Homo sapiens: one gene and its partner. The protein of the gene in region 2 purifies or fractionates together with the protein of the main gene of each other region. This does not show direct contact. Each region holds a gene or a part of one and is shown on either strand. Other genes may lie near its edges.

Evidence for each region.
Region 1: the proteins of ANKRD13A (region 2) and STMN2 purify together in Homo sapiens (co-immunoprecipitation; 2 studies listed by BioGRID and IntAct, with this or other methods). This does not show direct contact.

What each region holds. Positions count from the first base shown.
Region 1 is NC_000008.11:79,633,956-79,643,972, reverse strand, and holds part of STMN2 (stathmin-2), read right to left. Parts: intron 8,901-10,017; exon of another isoform or gene 8,807-8,900; intron 7,172-8,806; coding exon 7,076-7,171; intron 5,893-7,075; exon of another isoform or gene 5,807-5,892; intron 2,596-5,806; coding exon 2,423-2,595; intron 1-2,422. UniProt on the Homo sapiens protein: Regulator of microtubule stability. When phosphorylated by MAPK8, stabilizes microtubules and consequently controls neurite length in cortical neurons.
Region 2 is NC_000012.12:110,028,878-110,038,894, reverse strand, and holds part of ANKRD13A (ankyrin repeat domain-containing protein 13A), read right to left. Parts: intron 9,418-10,017; coding exon 9,260-9,417; intron 8,251-9,259; coding exon 8,137-8,250; intron 6,449-8,136; exon of another isoform or gene 6,185-6,448; intron 5,099-6,184; coding exon 4,938-5,098; intron 2,635-4,937; coding exon 2,567-2,634; intron 1,537-2,566; coding exon 1,341-1,536; 3' UTR 1-1,340. UniProt on the Homo sapiens protein: Ubiquitin-binding protein that specifically recognizes and binds 'Lys-63'-linked ubiquitin. Does not bind 'Lys-48'-linked ubiquitin.

The DNA of each region.
Region 1 (10,017 bases), on a different chromosome or scaffold from region 2:
AAAAAAACCATAAAAAACTAAAAATAAAACCCGACCACTAGGGCATAATCTATATGGTTATTTTTGCATTACAAAATGTTTAACAAATAACTGGAAAGGTGATGGAATACGGCTTTTAAAGCATTCTAAGGAATTTTTTTTTTCTGGGCATCATAACACTGGATGATTACATTTGTAAATGTCTTTTAACCATGTGGCCAGTTTCTAGTTCAATTCAATTGTTTAAATGTATAATCATTGATAATTTCTTGCTGTCAGGGTGCAGGAGCTTTATCAGTTTCATTAATTAGTAACCTCAGGGACTCTTATAAGAACACCTAGTTAATTTTGTTGATCCCAGTTCTTTTTTTATCCTCAATAATTTCTTTCAAATTAAGTGTAGTACCTAGAAACACCAGCAACATCCTAAATCAGGATGTTGAATTGTGGTTTGAGTTTTAATTTCACCTCAGTCACTGACTCCATATTCTAATCAAGTCATAGCATCTCAATATATGTCGACCTATGACTCTTATCTCTACCCAGTGCCTATAAGATGCCAGTGCTTGGGTCAGAGCTTAAACTGCTTTGGGTGCAACATGCTCTCCACTGTTTTAGGTATTGCTTACATCTGCTGGCAGCAAAGTTTTGATAATGTTGAATAATTTATTTTAGCTTTACTATGAGAATAAAGCTAAAAATAACAATAAAAAAGCTGATAAAAATGTTTTAAAGCAACTTCCTGTATATATATATATATATATAGTCGAGTTAGTAGCTCAGGTTCCTGTTTTTTAAATCTAGAACAATGATAACTAGTATTTTATATATATATATATATATACACACACACATACACACACCAATATTAATATATAATCATGGTGTATATATACCAATATTAATATATAATTATGGCATATATACAATATTAATATATAATTATGGTATACATATACATATATACACATCACATATACACCAGTTACCATTGTTATATTTATATCTATAATTGGTATATGTAATATATAGAGATAGCTATATATATCTATAATATAGATATCTCTATATACCAATTACCATTGTAATTATATATATAAAAATTCATATATATATATATGACATGCTCATCGGACATTTGGAGAACATCACTCTTAGGTGAAAATTGAGATCAGCATATTACATATCATAGGAGGATTTTTTTTCAACTACAAAGATTAGTGTTTTCTTGTTTAGAAAATTTAATCTAAGGATTTCTAATGTTTGAGCCTCATTATTTGATAATACACATATTTGTGTACATATATGCATGTATATATGCACATATACTATACACAGCACATCTGTGTTTGTCCTGCATTCTCTCTTGGAGAATTCAATCTTTAGGAGGAGGATTATCTTCATTCTGTTTTTAATTATCCAACATAGAAGTGTCCAAAGTTTTGGCTGACTTTTTAGAGAAAACATCATAAAACTGTGCAGGGAACATGTTCTTAGTGATTACCTGATTCTAAAATTATATCATAAAAAATATTGGGAAATACAATGTGGGGATGAATTACATAAAAGAATTCCATTTTTGGATGATCGTGAGTACCTTGATGGGATTAACTACCATAACCACATGGTTGGAACAGACACATTCAAACAACTTCTGTTTGTGTACACAGTCCCTAGGATTTCTAAGTGTTCTCAAATAATACCCTTGGCTCTTCTTAGCCATGTGATTATGGAAAAGTAAAGATTTGGCAAAAGGAAAGCTCTTTAATATAAGCAGGGACCAATGGCAAAAAGAGAAAAATCCCCATCAAGTCTTAGAAAAAGATAAAGAACATATTCAAAGAACTCAGAGAAGGTCCTGATCTTGGAAGGACCAACTTCCAGGGCAGGCAGTGGGACTCTGAAGAGGAAAGGGGCAAGCTCTTGGCCCTTACCCTGGGCAGGAAAGATCTTGGAGGGAAGATCTGGTAATTTGTAATTCCAAGGAAAACCACGCCTGACAAAGGGGGTGACACAGATCCTGAGAGGGAGGAAGCAGCACTTCTTCCCCTCCCCACCACTGGAGTTCGCCAGGGCTGTGTTTTCTCTACAGTGCTTCTGCCTGATGGTCTAGGGAAGGGAGGCTTTTATAATAAGGGGATTCAATATACGGGAAGGGGCACTAGAGCACTGAAGCTCTTTGGATTTCTGAGAGCTCTGGTTTGGCTAGCCTAAAATTAGCATCTATCTTACAGTTTTTACCCCAACTAGCCTGGCTCTGTGTCTACTGAAAACCTATACATGTTGGCATGGCACAGGTTCAGCTGTCATTGCTCTCTGTATGTGTGTGTGTGTGTGTGTGTGTGTGTGTGTGTGTGTGTGTGTGCGTGCATGTGTGCCCGAGTGTGTGAGAGGGAGGAGCAGGGGAGGGAGAGAGAGAAGGAAAACCTATGGAAAAAGTTACCTTTCTTCTTTCCTCTGCAGCCTCCAGTTTCTTCTGGATCTCCTCCAGGGACAGGTCTTTCTTCTTTGGAGAAGCTAAAGTTCGTGGGGCTTCTGAGATAGGAGATGGTGGCTTCAAGATCAGCTCAAAAGCCTGGCCAGAGGCACGTTTGTTGATTTGCTTCACTTCCATATCTGAAAAGTGAACATTTGAGAATGTTAAGCATACAAAGCTTGCAGCATGGGTTTATTTTAATAATTTAGATTCCAGCAATTGGAAGTAGCGTTGTTATTCCGGGAGATAGGAATAAAATGCTGTTTATGAGCATTTGCTCTATGTTGTTTAGAACATATAAGACCTCTCTGTCTTTAGTGTAACTATGGATATATTTTAACAGAATAAATATTTACCATATTGAGAAATTTGACAATATCTGCAGGGAGTTGAATAACGGTAAGCATACTTAGATAAAAATAGCCTAAATTGATTTTAAATTAAGCTTTATTTTCCTTTTGAACAAATATGAGCTTTGCATGAAAATCAAGTAGCACAGATTTATTTGTTTGGAAATTATCGTAGCTGTAGGCCCTTTTTGGTTAGACGAGAAACATAACGGAGTTCTTCAGTTCTCACATATAATGAGATATCATTATCTAGATATGCGTATATATGCATGCACCATTATATATATTATCACCATTCCTGTGCTTAGGAATCACAGGAGCTTCGTTAGAACCAATGTAACTCCCTGAACAGTTGGGCATATTTGGCAAAGTCAATGCTGAAATGCAAAGCATCCTGCTGATTTCTGTTTTGCCCTTCTGTATGTTCATTGCTTCCAGTCATCAATCATGCACAGTGCCCACTCCAGGGATGACAACATCACTCTGTGATGGGGGTCCTTGTCTTCAAGATGCTTACAGTCTAATGGGGGCAATAAGACAACACCCCATTGTAATGTCTTTGCTCCTGTGTTGTTGCTGTTTAGAATATCCTCCTCTAGTGTACTCGGCTGGAGCCAGGAGCCAGGGATAGAGCCACTGTGGTGGAGGAGGGAGTGGCAACATCTACTAATCTAATTTATACACATACACATGGAATACTGTTCAGCCTTAAAAAAGTTGGGGGAAATCCTGTCATTTTTGACAACATGGGTGAACCTGGAGGACACTATGCTAAGTGAAATAAGCTAGGCACAGAAAGACAAATACCACATGATCTCACTTACATGTGGACTATTCATAAAGTTGAACTCACGGAAGCAGAGTAGAATTGTGGTTACCAGGGGTTAGGGGTGGAGACTGGGGAGATGTTGATCAAAGAATACATAATTTCAGTTAAACAGGAAGAACAAATGCAAGAGACTTATTATTGAGACGGAGTTTCCCTCTTTTGCCAGGCTGGAGTGCAGTGGCACTATCTCGACTCACTGCAACCTCCGCCTCCCAGGTTCAAGCAATTCTCCTGCCTCAGCCTCCTGAGTAGCTGGGACTACAGGCGCTTACCACCACACTCAGCTAATTTTTCTATTTTTAGTAGAGGCAAGGTTTCAGCATGTTGGTCAGGCTGGTCTCGAACTCCTGACCTCGTGATCTGCCAGCCTTGGCCTCCCAAAGTGCTGGGATTATAGGCGTGAGCCACCACGCCCGGCCGCAGAAGACTTATTGTACACCATGCTGACTATTGTTAATAACAATGTACTGTATTCTTGAAAATCACTGAAAGAGTAGATTTTTTGTTCTCATCACAAATAAATGACAGGTGTGTGAGGTAATGCATATGTGAATTTGCTTCACTTAGCCATTCTCTAATGTATACATATTTCAAAATATGCCATACACCGCAAACATATACAATTTTTGTCAATTAAAAAAAGAACTGAAGAATGGTTAGCCACTTATTTTCTATCAGTGGCTTATGTATTAAAGATAAGCAGATTATCAGACCCTTATGTTTTAAGCCTGTATAATACAAATTATAACATAAAATAGTATAATTTATAATAGAAAAGATGACAGCTAGCACCTGCTAGGACATTTATAATTACAGAACTCACAATTTAGTAAAATGCAATGATTTTTAAAAGAACCTCGCTGGTCAGCCCTCAATTTCAGATGAGCATTCTTTGAGTCCCAAACTCCATCTCTCTGGTTTTAGCCCACTGATCCTTGTTTGAAGTCTGAAGCTACCCATGATTAGGCCATTCTCTGTGGTGCACCACCATTTTTCAAGTATTTGAAAACAGTTATGTTCCATTTCAAGTTGTTCCCCCAGGCTAAACATCTTCAAGTGCCCCAGAATGACACTGTTTCTAGATCTTTACCACCATATTATTTCCTAACCTCTAAGTGCTCTCTAATTTATTAACGTCTTTTTAAAATTGTGGCAACCAAGCCAGCAGGTTATGTTCCCGTTAATGTTCTTTTAGCAGCCTGGTTAGTGCACATGGAGGTTGTGGTCAAGTAAAATGCCAGGCTGGCAGGCCTTGACCTCAGATCCTTAGCTGCTAATAGATAGTCTAGATAATACTAACTCAATAACTATATTGGAAATGATGTGGGCTTTTTCCTTCACAAATGTAAAAATGTTTTTCATTTTCCTGATGGCATCCAAGATTATACTTAAATTTTAAATACAATTTTATAAAAATTATGGAAACCTATGGATAAGGATTATAAGAGAACACGGGCAAATAAAAACAGCTTATTTGATAAGGTGATGGGGTTTTAAATGCCTTAGATTAGAGGCTCTGGAATTAGAACTGCCTATATTTGCATCCAAATAGTAAGCCCCTCTTAATAGCTGTGTGACACTAGGTAAGTTAATTAACTTCTTTATGCTTTTATTTCCTCATTTAAAAGATGGAAATAAAAAGAGTACCTTCCTTCTAAGGTGGTTGTGAAGATTAAATGATAAAGGATGCTGAATGCAAAGCACAAGCCATATACTTAGTGCTTACAAATGTAAACAATAATAATAATTTATTGTTATAATGTTTGCCTGCAATAAACAAGTCACGTTATTATCTAACATAGAAATACCAGGTCAAGTTAAAGACTGCAGAAATTTGAAATTCTCTACGGACTCTTTTAGGAAGCACAGTTTACGAGAAATGTTGAATTATCTATTCAACTTTAAATACAGCTCAATAAAAATTATGGAAGCCTATGGAAAAGGATTATAAGAGAACGCAGGCAAATAAAAACAGCTTATTTCAAGAATCAGCTCACACATAACTTCACATATTTTCTTCCCCTTTTTTCATTCCCTAACCCAGCAAAAACCATCCCTGGCTCCTTTGTCCTAACCACTCTGTGTTCTACATTCTAGTCATTTGTGTAAGACTCTTCTACTAAGCCCTGAATTCTTTGAAGGTGAGGACTACGCCCTATGGAACTCTGGATCCTCAGTGACAACCCATAGTTCGACATTAGTCTCATAAGAAACATAGCTGGATCCTTCTTCACAGCTACATCTAGCAAATAATAAAGGTCTGTCTAATTTATTTGCTGACCGAATGAATTTGTACAAAGTAGGCATTGGCCCTGCATTCTAATGAATGTTTTGTTTGGAGACAGAATTCCTTTCACATGGAGGACATTTCCTTATGGAACAGTTAATTAGCATTTATGATTTTTGTGCTACGATAGAATAACTTTGGAAGGTAAATGCCTTTGAGTCCTTGAATAGGCTTTAAAGGTGCAGAAGGGGTTAACTGCCACAAGGTCAGTTTGTTTTGTCATTAATGTCTTTCTTTACATATATGGAAAAGAAAAATATTTGTGAGCCTGAGAGTTAGTAAAATATGCCTTAGGGATATCTAGGATACATAGAACTGTATAAAATATTTTAGTTAAATTGACTGAATTAGGTAAGGATGATGTTGATAATGATAGCTATCATTGTAGAGTGATATAATGAGCTAGGCTTGGTTTTGCATATTTGACTTACATTAAACCGTTTAAACCTCACAACAACTCCAAGAGGAAGATGCTAGAGTTAAATGAGACTTAGAGAATCCAAGTATCTATTTGACCAAGATCATGTGGATTGTGGCAGAGCCAAAGTAAGCAAAATGAATCAGGATAAATCAAACCTAAAGAGTTGCACCTCAATCATGTTAATTGCCATGCTAATTCTTTAGGCTTTTCTTTTCAGACCCTCTTTATCTAGGGCCTCAGTCGTAAGTCAGTTTTATTTATTGAGCCAATTATTATTATCATTAGCTGGTTGACATGTATATACAAAGTATAGAAACTTTATAAAGACTACAATAAAGCAAAAACAATTATGGTTGTTGATTCTTTCTCTTGAGTTTTCTAAGTATAAAGCATTTTCTTACAAATTATGATCTACTCCAATTATGGCTTAGCCTATTAAATTATTTGCAAAGAAAGACCTTAGACATATTGTGGATGTTGATATGCTGGATGTGGCTGTTAATAAGAATCCATCCACATTTCTTAACAGACATTGATGTGTTGTTATTAGCACCAAATTCAAACTGTTTTCAGCAATAGGTAATCAATTGGACATAATAGCTAGACACGGCAAGTCAATAGTGAGAGCTACAAAATATTGATGTAATTATATCAGGAGCTGTAAGAAACAAATATATGTCAACCTTTCCAAATGATCTAGCTAGCAGGGGTATGTCTATCCTAGGTTACTCACCATCGTAAGTATAGATGTTGATGTTGCGAGGTTCCGGGTAAAAGCAAGAGCAGATCAGTGACAGCATGGACAGCTCCTTCATTTTTTCCTTGTAGGCTGAAATGAAAAGCTGAAGATTAGTATATTTCATTTTTTCTGAATTTCTCTTTACTGCTTCCTTTAATTTGAATAATAATTATTGCCTCCTGCAGAGTGAATATTGCCAGGTAGACTCCTTTGCATTCTTTCACTAAATATAAAGGAATGCAAGATGTCAACAGAATTCTGAAGTGCATGTTCCTTAGTGCAGAGGAGATCAATTGCATAGTATAGCAGGTTAAATAACAAGAGAAAGAAAGGGAGTTAGAAAAACAAAGGAAGGTCGAAGGAATTAAGATCTAGCAGGATAGGAGGGAGAGAGAGGAAACAGATGGAATTAGTGGAAGCAGACATGATTACCAGAGAGAGAGGCTCATTCTAGTAAATGTGCATGCAGGTCTATTGTACATAAGTAAGATTCCGGAGGGCTACTCTGATGGTTCAGCCTGAATTGCCACGTACTCATTTGGGAATAGTCAGATAACTCATCAGGATAGTTATTAAGCAAACACATTATCCAGGGTCCTATGTTGCTGCTTTCTCTTAATCTCCAAGTGCATTTTCTTATCTGTCCATCTTTTCTTTTTTCTTTCCTCTCTCTCTTTGAGACAGAGTTGCTCTGTTACCCAGGCTGTAGTGCAGTGGTGTGATCCCAGCTCACTGCAACCTCCACCTCCTGGGCTCAAGTGATGTTCCCCCCTCAGCCTCCCCATTAGCTGGGACTACAGGTGCGCTCCACCATGCCTGGATAATTTTTGTATTTTTTGTACAGACAGAGTTTCACCAGGTTTCTCAGGCTGGTCTTGAATTCCCGGGCTCAAGCAATCCACCCACCTTGGCCACCCAAAGTGCTGGGATTACAGGTGTGAGCCTCTATTTCCAGCCTCTTTCTTTCTTTCTTTTTTTTTTAATTTCAAGTTTTATTTTAGATACAAGGGGTATATGTGCAGTCTTTTTACATGGGAATATTAAATGATGCTGATGTTTGGGGTGTAAATCCCATCACCCAGGTATTGAGCATAGCACCTGATAGGTAGTTTTACAAACCTCTCTCCTTCCCCCCTCTAGTAGTCCACAGTGTTTATTGTTCTCATATTTATGTCCATGTGTGCTCAGTGTTTAGCTCCCACTTATAAGTGAGAACATGCTGTATTTGGTTTTCTGTTCCTGTGTTAATTCACTTAGGATTATGGGTCCCAACTGCATCCATGTTGCAGCAAAGGACATGATTTCATTTTTTCTTATGGCCATGTTGTATTGCATGCTTTATATTTACCCCATTTTCTTTATCCAATCTGCCATAGATGGACACCTAGTTTGATTCCATGTCTTAGCTATTGTGAATAGTGCTGCCATGAACATACAAGCACATGTGTCTTTTTAATAGAATGATTTATTCTCCTTTGGGTATACACCAAGTAATGGGATTGCAAGGTCAAATGGCAGCTCTGTTTTAAGTTCTTTGTCTCTCCCTCTTTCTACACACACCAAAGCCCTCGATCTGAGCTCTGATTACATCTGATAAGGATCTCCTTCCCTCCGTTGCAACCCAGCTTGTGTGCCAACCTTGCCATGCAGTTGCAAGAGTCCAGATTGTCACCTCCTCAATCCTTCACTCCCCTTCCCCATTTCATTTTCTCATTTTTTCTCTAGGAAGCCTCCTGCCCTGGTAAACTTGGTGAGTATCTCATCACTGTCAGTTGTCATCAGGCCAAGTATCTGCAAACTACCAGATGGGGATAAGGAGGTAAAATCTTCTTACTTTTGTTAATTATGCAATTAGTAAAATTAATAAATTAAGGAAAATGGTAGAAAATGATGGGTATACTGTGCACTAACTTGTGAGAAAGTATAAACAGATGGCTGTGAAATAAAATATAGACCTCCCAGGTTAACAGTTTCTTCTTGGCAGGGGCTTCTGATCATTACTATAATATAACCCAAGGGAGAGTGGGTATCTTGGGAAAGAGGATTCTCAGAAGATGAGTTTGGGCATTATTGACAGGTGCATCTTTTCTTGGCCAGAAAGAAACATATTCAACCCCTGGATGCTTTAGATCCACAGATACTAGAATTATTCTAAGAGATTATTTAGTCAACTGTCCACCTACCTCACCACCAATTTTACAAATGAGGATATAGCCCCACAGAGGCCAAAGTCACATGTAGCCAGTGACAACGGTGAAGCTTCTGGATAAATTGCAGTAAATCAATCTATTTAAAAACTGCCAGAAGGCTTTCTTCTAGCTCTACAATTTTAGGATGAGGTTCAATGTGTTAACAGGTGCAATGATCAAATATCATTTGCCTATGATTCAACCTAACACATCCTGAGGATCTGCTAAAAGAATCCCCTCACTATTTAGCTTATTTTCTTAAAATAAGCAATACATGTTGTCCTGTGCCATAAAAGTCCTGGAACATCCATTCTGAGATATTTTGTTGAACGCCTTTGGAATTTTAGAAGGCTAAACCAAATTTCTTTGTATCATTTGTTTATTCAGTTAATGAAATTGTGTCACTTATAAAGGCCCAGGCAGATCCAGATTTATATGGAGTTAAGTGAGAATCATAATTTCTGCCAGAGCATAAAACATTTAATACATTTAATTCCATGAACTAATTGAAAACAGTAACAGCAAGGTTTTGTAGGCTGGTACCTTTTTTGGAAGAGAAATGCATTCTGGTATGCAAAACATTTTGCAAAATTAAGCACATATTAGAAACACATGAAGCATATTACATGCCGACTTTATTAAGAAGGGTCAATCCAAACATAAAAATAAAATAAAAGATTTTCCATCTCACAAAGTAGTAACAGATGAAAGCTGTATCGGAACGTGAATTTTTAGTGAAGAAAAAAC
Region 2 (10,017 bases):
TACCAGGTTATTTCAGTGCAGCCTGTGGGAATGAATACACGGGCCACAGTGAGCAGTGCCCTTGGCTGTATTCCCCAGGGTTCTGTATGTTGTGCGATGGTTATATACAAGAGGGTTTGACAAAAGAGAGTTAACTACTAAAGGTATCCAAAAAAGGCCTGAGAAAATCTGGTTAAAATGTATAACCTTGTATTGCTACTGATGGGAGTTGTTTTTATATCTTTTACAAATAATAAAAAGATTGTTAAAAAATAGATTTATCCAGAAAGATGTTGATTTGAACTCTAAAAAGCAACGTGGAATCATTATTTTCCCTTTTGAATGAAGAGCCATGGAGCTCCGTGGTTTTCAGCTCCCTTTCTGGTTGCAAATCAATCCTTCCTCTGGAGTGAGTCTAGGGCATGCGGGCTCTTCCTAGGTGTCTACGTGGAAATCCTTCACTCATGCAGGTGTAGAACACACCTGGTTTGGTTCTGTGTGTTCCAATATTTTGGCCAGCTTGCCCACTTCAAGAACAAGCCTCAGGTTCCCCTAGCTGCTCCTTCAGGGACAGGATTAGCTGCCTTTGATTTAGCCTGGAGAATCCTGCTCTCAAAAGAATTGCCTTTACAAATTCAAATCAGATCCTTCGATGCGTGCAGTGAGGTGATGTGAAACTATTAGTAATGTTTAAGGCTAAGGCAACATCCATGGCCATTTGTGTATCTTAATTTGATGCAAATAGTTAACAATAATCTAAAATAGATTCTATATGTATCTCCTCTAACTTTAGCTGGGTGTGGAAGGAATGGAATCAGATAGATGGAGGAAGAATAATGACAATGTCCTAGAAACCCTGTAAAAAGGTAAAAATAAGGAGATCAGCACAGATTACCCATTTCTTTGGTGAACAGTAAAGAAGTGTCTCCAATTCTCATAGATCACACTTTACAAAGGCGGCTGCTGCTCTTATATATAAAAGCACCCTGACTCTGCAATAACTTGTCTTGTTATCACTCCTTGATAAAAATTTATCTACAAACCTGCGGGGATTGGGGTTTTGTCTAAAGCTGGTAGTAAAAATGTGACCTGCAAGCCAATACAGCTAATGGAAAGTGATGATGCTCTCCTCCCCTTAGCCTGGAGATGGGGCCTGCAATCCCTGGTCCCTTCTCCACCCCAGGGAGCAGCCTGGATGGGCCCAGGAGTCCCTGGTTCTGCACCTCTGCATAAAGAAGGGGCAGTTGTTGCCTGCTGCATGCACGCAAGGTGCAGGCCCTTAGCCCTAGGGCCCTGGTTGACACAGCATCTGTGACAGCCCACAGCCTCTGCTTTGTGCAGAGGCTCACAGGCTGAAAGGTCTATTTGTCAGTGAGTGACAGCTGTAAGACTTGCTGGAGCTCAGCCTCTTCCTCCTGGAGCCGGAGCTCCCATTCCTCCAGCTCTTTGGCAGAGAGCTCCATGGCTAGCTGCAAGTCATTATCAAAACGGCTTGTCTCGCTCAGGGCGCTGGGGCACAGGCCTTCTGTGCTGGTGAGGAGGCTCTCCTGGATGGCCCTGGGTTGGAAAACAGATAAAAAGGGAGAGTCACTACTATCATCATCATGGTGGCAGCAGTAACTACATTTCTTAACCGCTTACCAAGGGCACACTGTGCCAGGCATTTAATATGCATGATGCCAATTAATCCCACATAACTGGCGGTGTAGGTGTTGTATACGGGTGAGAAACCCCACAATCTTGCCCAAGACCACCCAACCAGTAAGTGATAGGGCTGGGAATTGAACTTGGATCTGTTTTAAAGCAAAACTCAGGTTCTTCATCAACAGGCTCTCATAGACACCTTAAGTATAAGTCTTCGTAAAATGAATCCTCGCGGTTTTTCCCGTAATCTCTGGAGCTGTTCCTCCAAACTTCCTTATCTTTACAATTATATAAACTTCCCACTGAGGACATCTAGGCCCTGTGATCATACATCATTCATAGAAGATCAAACCAATCAGAAAAAACTGACTCAGTACGTTTCCCCCAATGGCACTGACCTGTGAACCAGTCAGCAATTCTATCACCCATTCCTGGAAACTTGCTATCAAGAGTCTAGAGTTATTATAAGTAACTGCCACAAGAGGAAGCAAGAGAGCCAACACTTTAGTCTTTTTTTTTTTTGAGACGGAGTCTCGCTCTATCGCCCAGGCTGGAGTGCAGTGGCGCGATCTCGGCTCACTGCAAGCTCCGCCTCCTGGGTTTGCCATTCTCCTGCCTCAGCCTCCCGAGTAGCTGAGACTACAGGTGCCTGGCACCATGCCCGGCTAATTTTTTGTATTTTTTTTAGGAGAGACAGGGTTTCACCGTGTTAGCCAGGATGGTCTCAATCTTCTGACCTCGTGATCCGCCTGCCTCGGCCTCCCAAAATGCTGGGATTATAGGCGTGAGCCACCGCTCCTGGCCTACTTTTTCTAGTCTTTCCTGCCAGTTTGTGGCACCGTACATCTGCCTGAGGACCAAATGCACAGTGCCACGCGTCTGCTCGCCTGTGTCCAGGCCTGTGTTCACCCTGGTTTATTCCAGAGTCACGTCAGTCAATCACCTCTCATACTGGGCGTCATAGGTGTTTGTCTGGCTGATCCCTCCATTCGAAGCTGGTCCTGAAAGTTCCTGGCAAAGACAAATGTGATAGACATGAATACGTCTTAGGAGAAATTGGTGCCATTCTGGTAAGGAAACGATGGCAGCAAGAACCAAATTAAAAGTCTTTCCATGACCATTATCAATAGTGCTGTGTGAAAAGCTAACAGGGACTTGGGTTACCTCAAAAACAACACCTAAGTGGGAGGTAGTAACATGCCACAGCCTAACTCACAGCCACAACCTTCTCATCCTTTGTACAAAATCAGTCTCTTAAATACAGCTAACCCACGTGGAAGATATACACAACGAAAAGCAAAAACACAGCTGACCTTGGGCAAAGTTCAAGTGACCAAAGCAGGTTTTTGTTTTTTTAGAGACAGGGTCGCACTCTGTTGTCCAGGCTCAAGGGTAGTGATGTGATCGTAGCTCACTGCAGCCTTGACCCCAGGGCACAAGAAATCCTCCCACCTAAGCCTCCTGACTAGTTGGGAATACAGGTGCACACCACCATACTTGGCTTTTAAAATTTTTTGGTAGAGGCTAGGCATGGTGGCTCACACCTCTAATCCCAGCACTTTGGGAGGGCAAGGCTGGTGGATCACTTGAGGTCTGGAGTTTGGGATCAGCCTGGACAACATGGTAAAACCCCGTCTCTACTAAAAACACAAAAACTAGCTGGGTCTGGTGGTGCGCACCTGTAATCCCAGCTACTCGGGAGGGTGAGGCATGAGAATCACTTGAACCTGGGAGGCAGAGGCTGCAGTGAGCCAATATTGTGCCCCTGCACTGCAGCCTGAGCAAAAGAGTGAGACTCTGCCTCAAAAATTAAAAAAAAAAAAAAATTTGGTAGATATAGGATCTCACTATGTTGCCCAGGCTGGTCTCAGACTCCTGGGCTCAATCAGTCCTCCCATCTTGGCTTCCCAAAGTGCTGGGATTATAGGCATGAGCCACTGCACCCAGCCAGTAATTCTTCTAGGGCAAGATTAGAAGACACAATTCAATACTGGTAGTCTTTGACTTTGGCTACTTCCCTTGTTAAAACTTATGGTCAACAAGGTTTATGAAGCTACTTGGGAGCTGGCGGGGGGAGCTAAGCTCACTTACATAGGGAAAGGAAAAGCATACCAGGCTGATGGTGATGTGCAGGGGTCTTCTCCCAGGATGCCTCCCAAAGGGAACATGCTTGCTTTGGGGTCTGGCTCGGAAAACTGAATGGGTCTGGGAATGGGGCCATGGTGGTGGCAGGGGGAAGTGGAGGAGGTAGACTCACATTACACAAGCACTAAGACTCAGGAATAGAACCAGAAAGCTATAAGCTTGAACCAGTGAGGACGCTGGAGTGTGAGCACTGTTCTCAAAGCAGCAGCCCTGTGAGGGCAGGGGCTGCTTCCCAGAGAATTCCCAGCACCTGGCACAGAGCCTGGCACAAAGAAGGTACTCTGCAAATATCTGAATGAAGAATGGAAGAAAAAGCCAATTAACAAATAAATGGACTGCAGGAACCCAGGACACACCAGAGGGTGCTGGAGGCAGACCAGACCCTACCCTAGTAGAGCCAGGAGGCACAGAAGGAAGGAGATGGAAGGAGTTGATGTTAGGGGAGGAGGACCTCAAGCCTTGGACTGTCCCAGGTAGGTGAGGCATGGAGGGAGAACCAGATATGACAATAAAAGGCAACTGTTCTACTGGGCACAGTGGTGCATGACTTTAGTCCCAGCTACTTGGGAGGCTGAGGTGGGAGGATCTCTTGAACCCAGGAGTTTGAGGGTGCAATATGATCATGCCGGGGAACAGCCACTGCACTCCGACTTGGGCAACATAGAGTCACACACACACACACAAAGCCTACTGCTTACACAGGTCTGTCCTGTCCTTCATTTTCTGTTTCACTAGAGACCCAGAGAGAGTTTAGGGAGATGGTACCCTTTGTGGAGGAAGTGGGATTCAAATCCACTTCACTACCTTCATCCGAGACTACTGACACACAGGTAATCCTTCAGGAAAAATATGATACTGCTTCAGTGCTAGAAAATGATGAAGCACATCTCAAAAAGTACAGAATTACAAGCTATGTGCGTGAATATGAGGAAAAGGAAAGTCTGCCTGAAGACATCTTGTGAATGGTGCTGACTGGGATTATGTAGATGGTCTCTTACATAACAAGCTTTTGTAAGAAGACCAGATGCACAAAGTATAACCTATGCAAATACCATGAATGTGTCAAACTTGATATTTAGAATAAATCTTTCAGATTAGCCAAACACTGAGGCTAACCCAGAGGGTAAGACCTCCCACGCCCTGCCATTAGAGTATTCTGATAAACACACCTGGCTCCTGCTGGACTCCAGCAGACTTTGCTGGATGGCAAACTGCATTATCTCGTAATCTTCATCTTGCAAATGCACATTTCTGCCATTGTCTTGAACATAGTAAGATTCGGGAATTTCAAACACAGATTGATCAACCTCAAAGTTTGTGATGTGGGAAGCTGAAACAAAAGGCAACCGTCCAGTGTCTGAGTTCATTACATTTCCACTCCAACTTTTTGCAAAAATGTTGTACATTAGAAAAAAAAGAAAGGCTCAAAATTATAACAATCAAGGCTTACTATTATATGAGAGATTCTGAGGAAGCATGACAGAAAAAAGTGACAGAATACAGCTTTTTTCTTTTTCCTTGATTTTAGTGGAAACAACGAACACAGTCATAAAAAAATACACAAGACTATAAAATGAAAAGCGCAGATTTCTCCCCCTAAACATATACGCACAGTCACACCAATGTGTTTCTTCCTTTTGCAGGAAGATATATGGTAAATATATAAAAGTATATATAAAATATCTGAACACTTAAAAATGATAATAATTAAACAAATGCCTGTGTGCCCTTCACCTAGCCTAAGACACAGAACACTATCAATAACTGCCGGGCGCGGTGGCTCACGCCTGTAGTCCCAGCACTTTGGGAGGCTGAGGCAGGCAGATCACAAGGTCAGGAGATCGAGACCATCTTGGCTAACATGGTGAAACCCCGTCTCTACTAAAAATACAAAAAAAAAAAAAAATTAGCCGGGCGTGGTGGCGGGCACCTGTAGTCCCAGCTACTCGGGAGGCTGAGGCAGGAGAATGGCATGAACCCGGGAGGCGGAGCTTGCAGTGAGCCAAGATCGCACCACTGCACTCCAGCCTGGGTGACAGAGTAAGACTGTCTCAAAAAAAAAAAAAAAAAAGAAAAAGAAAAAAACACTATCAATACCATACTGCGGGCACATCCCTTGTTAACAATATTCCCTTCTTCCTCTCCAGAGGTAAATACATAATTCAGAATAGTTGTTTACACTGCCTAGCTCTTCTCTGGAGCTTGCCACATGTATATCATCCTAATAGTTTGTATTAGCCTGTTTGTGAACTCGACATAAATGGAATCATGCGGAATTTATTCTTCAAATTGGATTTTCTTCATTCAACATTATGCTTTTGAAATTCAACAGTTTTGACGCACATAGCTATAAATTTTTATTTTCAATACTATATGTTATTCTGTTGTATTAATAGAGCACAATAGCGCATTCTACCATCTCGGGACATTTGGGTCGTTTCCAGGTTTCTGCTGTTATGAATGGATGCTGCTGCCCAGTACTGGGGTCTCCAGATGCTCATGTGCATAACTTTCTTTAGGGTACACATCTAGGAATTGCTAGGTCATCCACATCTTCAGTTTATACAGTAATGCCGAATGTTTTATTCAAGGAACTATACCAATCTCCTCTTCCAGCCAAGAGTGCACGAGTGTTCCTTAGCTGCACAACCTCATGAACACATCTCACCCAACTTTGTTGCTACATGGGAATGTAAAGGTGTATATTATTGTCGAGTTCAATTGTTTTTATTTGAAGTCTTAATTTATATACATTAAAATGCTATCTTTTAATTCCTCCTACTGGTAGACTACAGGGGAGAAACATAGGACCATCATGATAGTTGCAGAAAACACATCTCACAAAAATCAATACTTAAAAATGGTAATAACTCTCAGCAAACTAGAAATATAAGAGAATAATGTCCTCCAACTAATAAGGGACATTTATAAAAAACCTACACAGCTAACATCATACCTAATGGCACAACAATCCTTCCTCCCCTAGAACCAGGAACAAGACAAGGACAGCCATTCCTACCACTCTTACTCAACATTGTACTAGATGTCCTAGCCAGTCCAGTAAGTCAAGAAAAAGAAATGAAAAGCTTAAAGATTAGAAAGGAAAAAGTAAAATTTTCTTTATTAATAGACAACATGACCATATATGTAAGAAATTCTAAGAAATCTACAAAAAAGTGTAAGACAAGTAAATTCAGCCATGTTACAAGATAAACAAGGTCAATCCTGGCCATGCAATTGTGTAAGAAAAAAAAAAGATAAAAAATTTTTAAAAACGATTCAAGGTCAAAATACAAAACTCAATTATATTTCTATATACTAGTAACTGGAAATGAAATTAAGAAAATAAGTCCATTTACAATTGCATCTAAAATCATGAATTGTATTGATGGCAAAGGAGTGTAAGGAAATTTGGGGGCATATGGAAATGCTGTCTACCTTGACTATGGTGGTGGTTACACAGATGCATACATTTGTCAAAATGTGGCTGGGTATGGTGGCTCACACTAGCACTTTGGGAGGCCGAGCTGGGTGGATCACTTGAGGTCAGGAGTTCCAGACCAGCCTAGCCAACATGGTGAAACCCAGTCTCTAATAAAAATACAAAAATCAGCCAGGCATGGTGGCACGCACCTGTATTCCCAGCTACTTGGGAGACTAGGCAAGAAAATCGCTTGAGCCTGGGAGGCAGAGGCTGCAGTGAGCAGAGATTGTGCCACTGCATGCCAGCCTAGGTGACAGAGTGAGACTCTGAGAAAAAAAAAAAAAATGCACTGAACCATCACACTTAAAATGAGAGCATTTTATTGTATGTACATTACACCTCAATAAAGCTGATTTTTAAGAACATCCTTTCTTTTTAATATAACTAGGATCATATATATTCTACAAGTTTTTTTTTGCTTAATCTAAACTAAATCTGAAATTTTCTTTCATCCAACACAGACATCTACTCCCTCAGATATTCCAGCTTCAGAGTGAATTATGAATATGATGACTGAATTATAATTTTTTTTTTTTGAGATGTAGTTTTGCTCTTGTTGCCCAGGCTGGAGTGCAATGGTACAATCTCGGCTCACAGCAACCTCCATCCCCCCGCCTCTCCCCCAGTTCAAGCGATTCTCCTGCCTCAGCCTCTCGAGTAGCTGGGATTACAGGCATGCGCCACCACACCCGGCTAATTTTTGTATTATTAGTAGAGACAGGGTTTCTCCATGTTGGTCAGGCTGGTCTCAAACTCCCGACCTCAGGTGATCCACCCACCTCGGCCTCCCAAAGTGCTGGGATTACAGGCATAAGCCACCACGTCCGGCCATAAATTTTTTTTTAAATAACAAAACTAAACTTTGTATTTATTTATTTTTTTACCTGAATCAGCCTGGGTCCCTTCCACATTTTGAGATACAGATTCTTCGGCAGTGCTACAGCCATTAACATTTCCAAATGTAATCCGTGCATTTAAGACATGAAACAAGGGAATTTCTAACAAACAAAATAAAAACTTTTATAAGTAAACTTTACTGAGAATAACAATAATAGTTATCATTTACTAAGTGCTTACTATGCCAAGTACTTTGATAAGTATAATTTTATTTAAGCCTCATAACAACCCTTCCCAATACACAGACGGGAAAACTGAGATTGAGAGTTGTGTATTTTCGGTCAGGCGCGGTGGCTTACACCTGTAATCCCAGCACTTTGGGAGGCCAAGGCGAGCTGATCACCTGAGGTCAGGAGTTCGAGACCAGCCTAACCAACATGATAAAACCCCATCTCTACTAAAAATACAAAAATTAGCTGGGCGTGGTGATGCATGCCTATAATCCCAGCTACTTAGGAGGCTGAGGCAGGAAAATCGCTTGAACCCAGGAGGCAGAGGTTGCAGTGAGCCAAGATCATGCCACTTCATTCCAGCCTGGGCAACAGAGCGAGACTCCATCTCAAAAAAAAAAAAGAGAAAATGAGTTATGTATTTTCTCCTAGATCACAGTGAGTAAGTGATCAAGCCAGGGTTCAAGTATCATGAACATACAACTATCCAAAATTAATACTCTTCATGAGTAGTATGTATGATATATACATATATAGCATTATGCATACTAGCTTGGGACGTAGATCATATTTACATATCAAAGGATCTTGGTGTCAACTGTCTTCCTCAAATAATTATCTAATTTGAAGTCTCACTGAATTAAGGTTTGACATTAAAACAATGACTGTGTCATGTTTTTATGCCTTTTTATATCTGTCAGCACCATTTGCAAATAGAAATGATGGTTGGAGATCTCTTGACTTTGATACACAAAATGAACCACTAATCATAACACTTCTTTAAATCAAACCACAGGAGAACTCTGACCTCCTCTGTTATGTCTATAAGCTACTTTGACCTAAAGCACTCCAATTCCCTGAAGCATCCTGCCACCCACATGCTGCCACCCACAAACATGGGCAGAACCTCCAAGTGTTGCTGAAGTTTATTTAGCAGTACCTATTTTGACAGGAAATCCAGGTGGGAATTCCAATTTGATGAAATCTCTCAGTCTTGCAAAATGAGCACTCGTTCGAGCCATTAGGTCAATGATGGGAATGACCTGCTCCACCAGAGAGAGGGGAAACTCTTCACACATCCACAACATTGCTTTAAACCTGCAGAATTCAACCAAGAAAAGACTGAGGTCATCTCCACCAGATGGGAAAAGGAGATTATTGCTATGCAGTAGGCTAGACAACAGCAGCTTTACTCCACACTCTGCCCAGTCATCTCTTAATTCAGACCTATTAAAGGTCAAATGTCTAGGGCCACAAGGAATTCACATCACCCTAAAATCTGGCAATAAAGGCAAGCGACCTGCATGACAACCTGCCACGATCAAAGCCTTAATTGACAGCAAGCATGAAGAAATGATAGCGGGTGGAACAGTTTCATTTGAATTTGATCAGCTGAAGCTGGTTAGCAATAAAAAAAAAAAGGAATTCTTACATCCAATCTAGATTCTATTTGGAAAGGAGCTAATAACATGGACAATCTACTGTTAGCTTTCATGGCAAAGTAATTTTAAAATTATTTTTTATAAAAAGGGGCAGAGGAGGCTGGGCGCAGTGGCTCATGCCTGTAATCCCAGCAGTTTGGGAGGCCCAGGCGGGCGGATCACAAGGTCAGGAGTTCGAGACCAGCCTGACCAATATGGTGAAACCCTATCTCTACTAAAAATACAAAAATTAGCTGGGCGTGGTGGCACGCGCCTG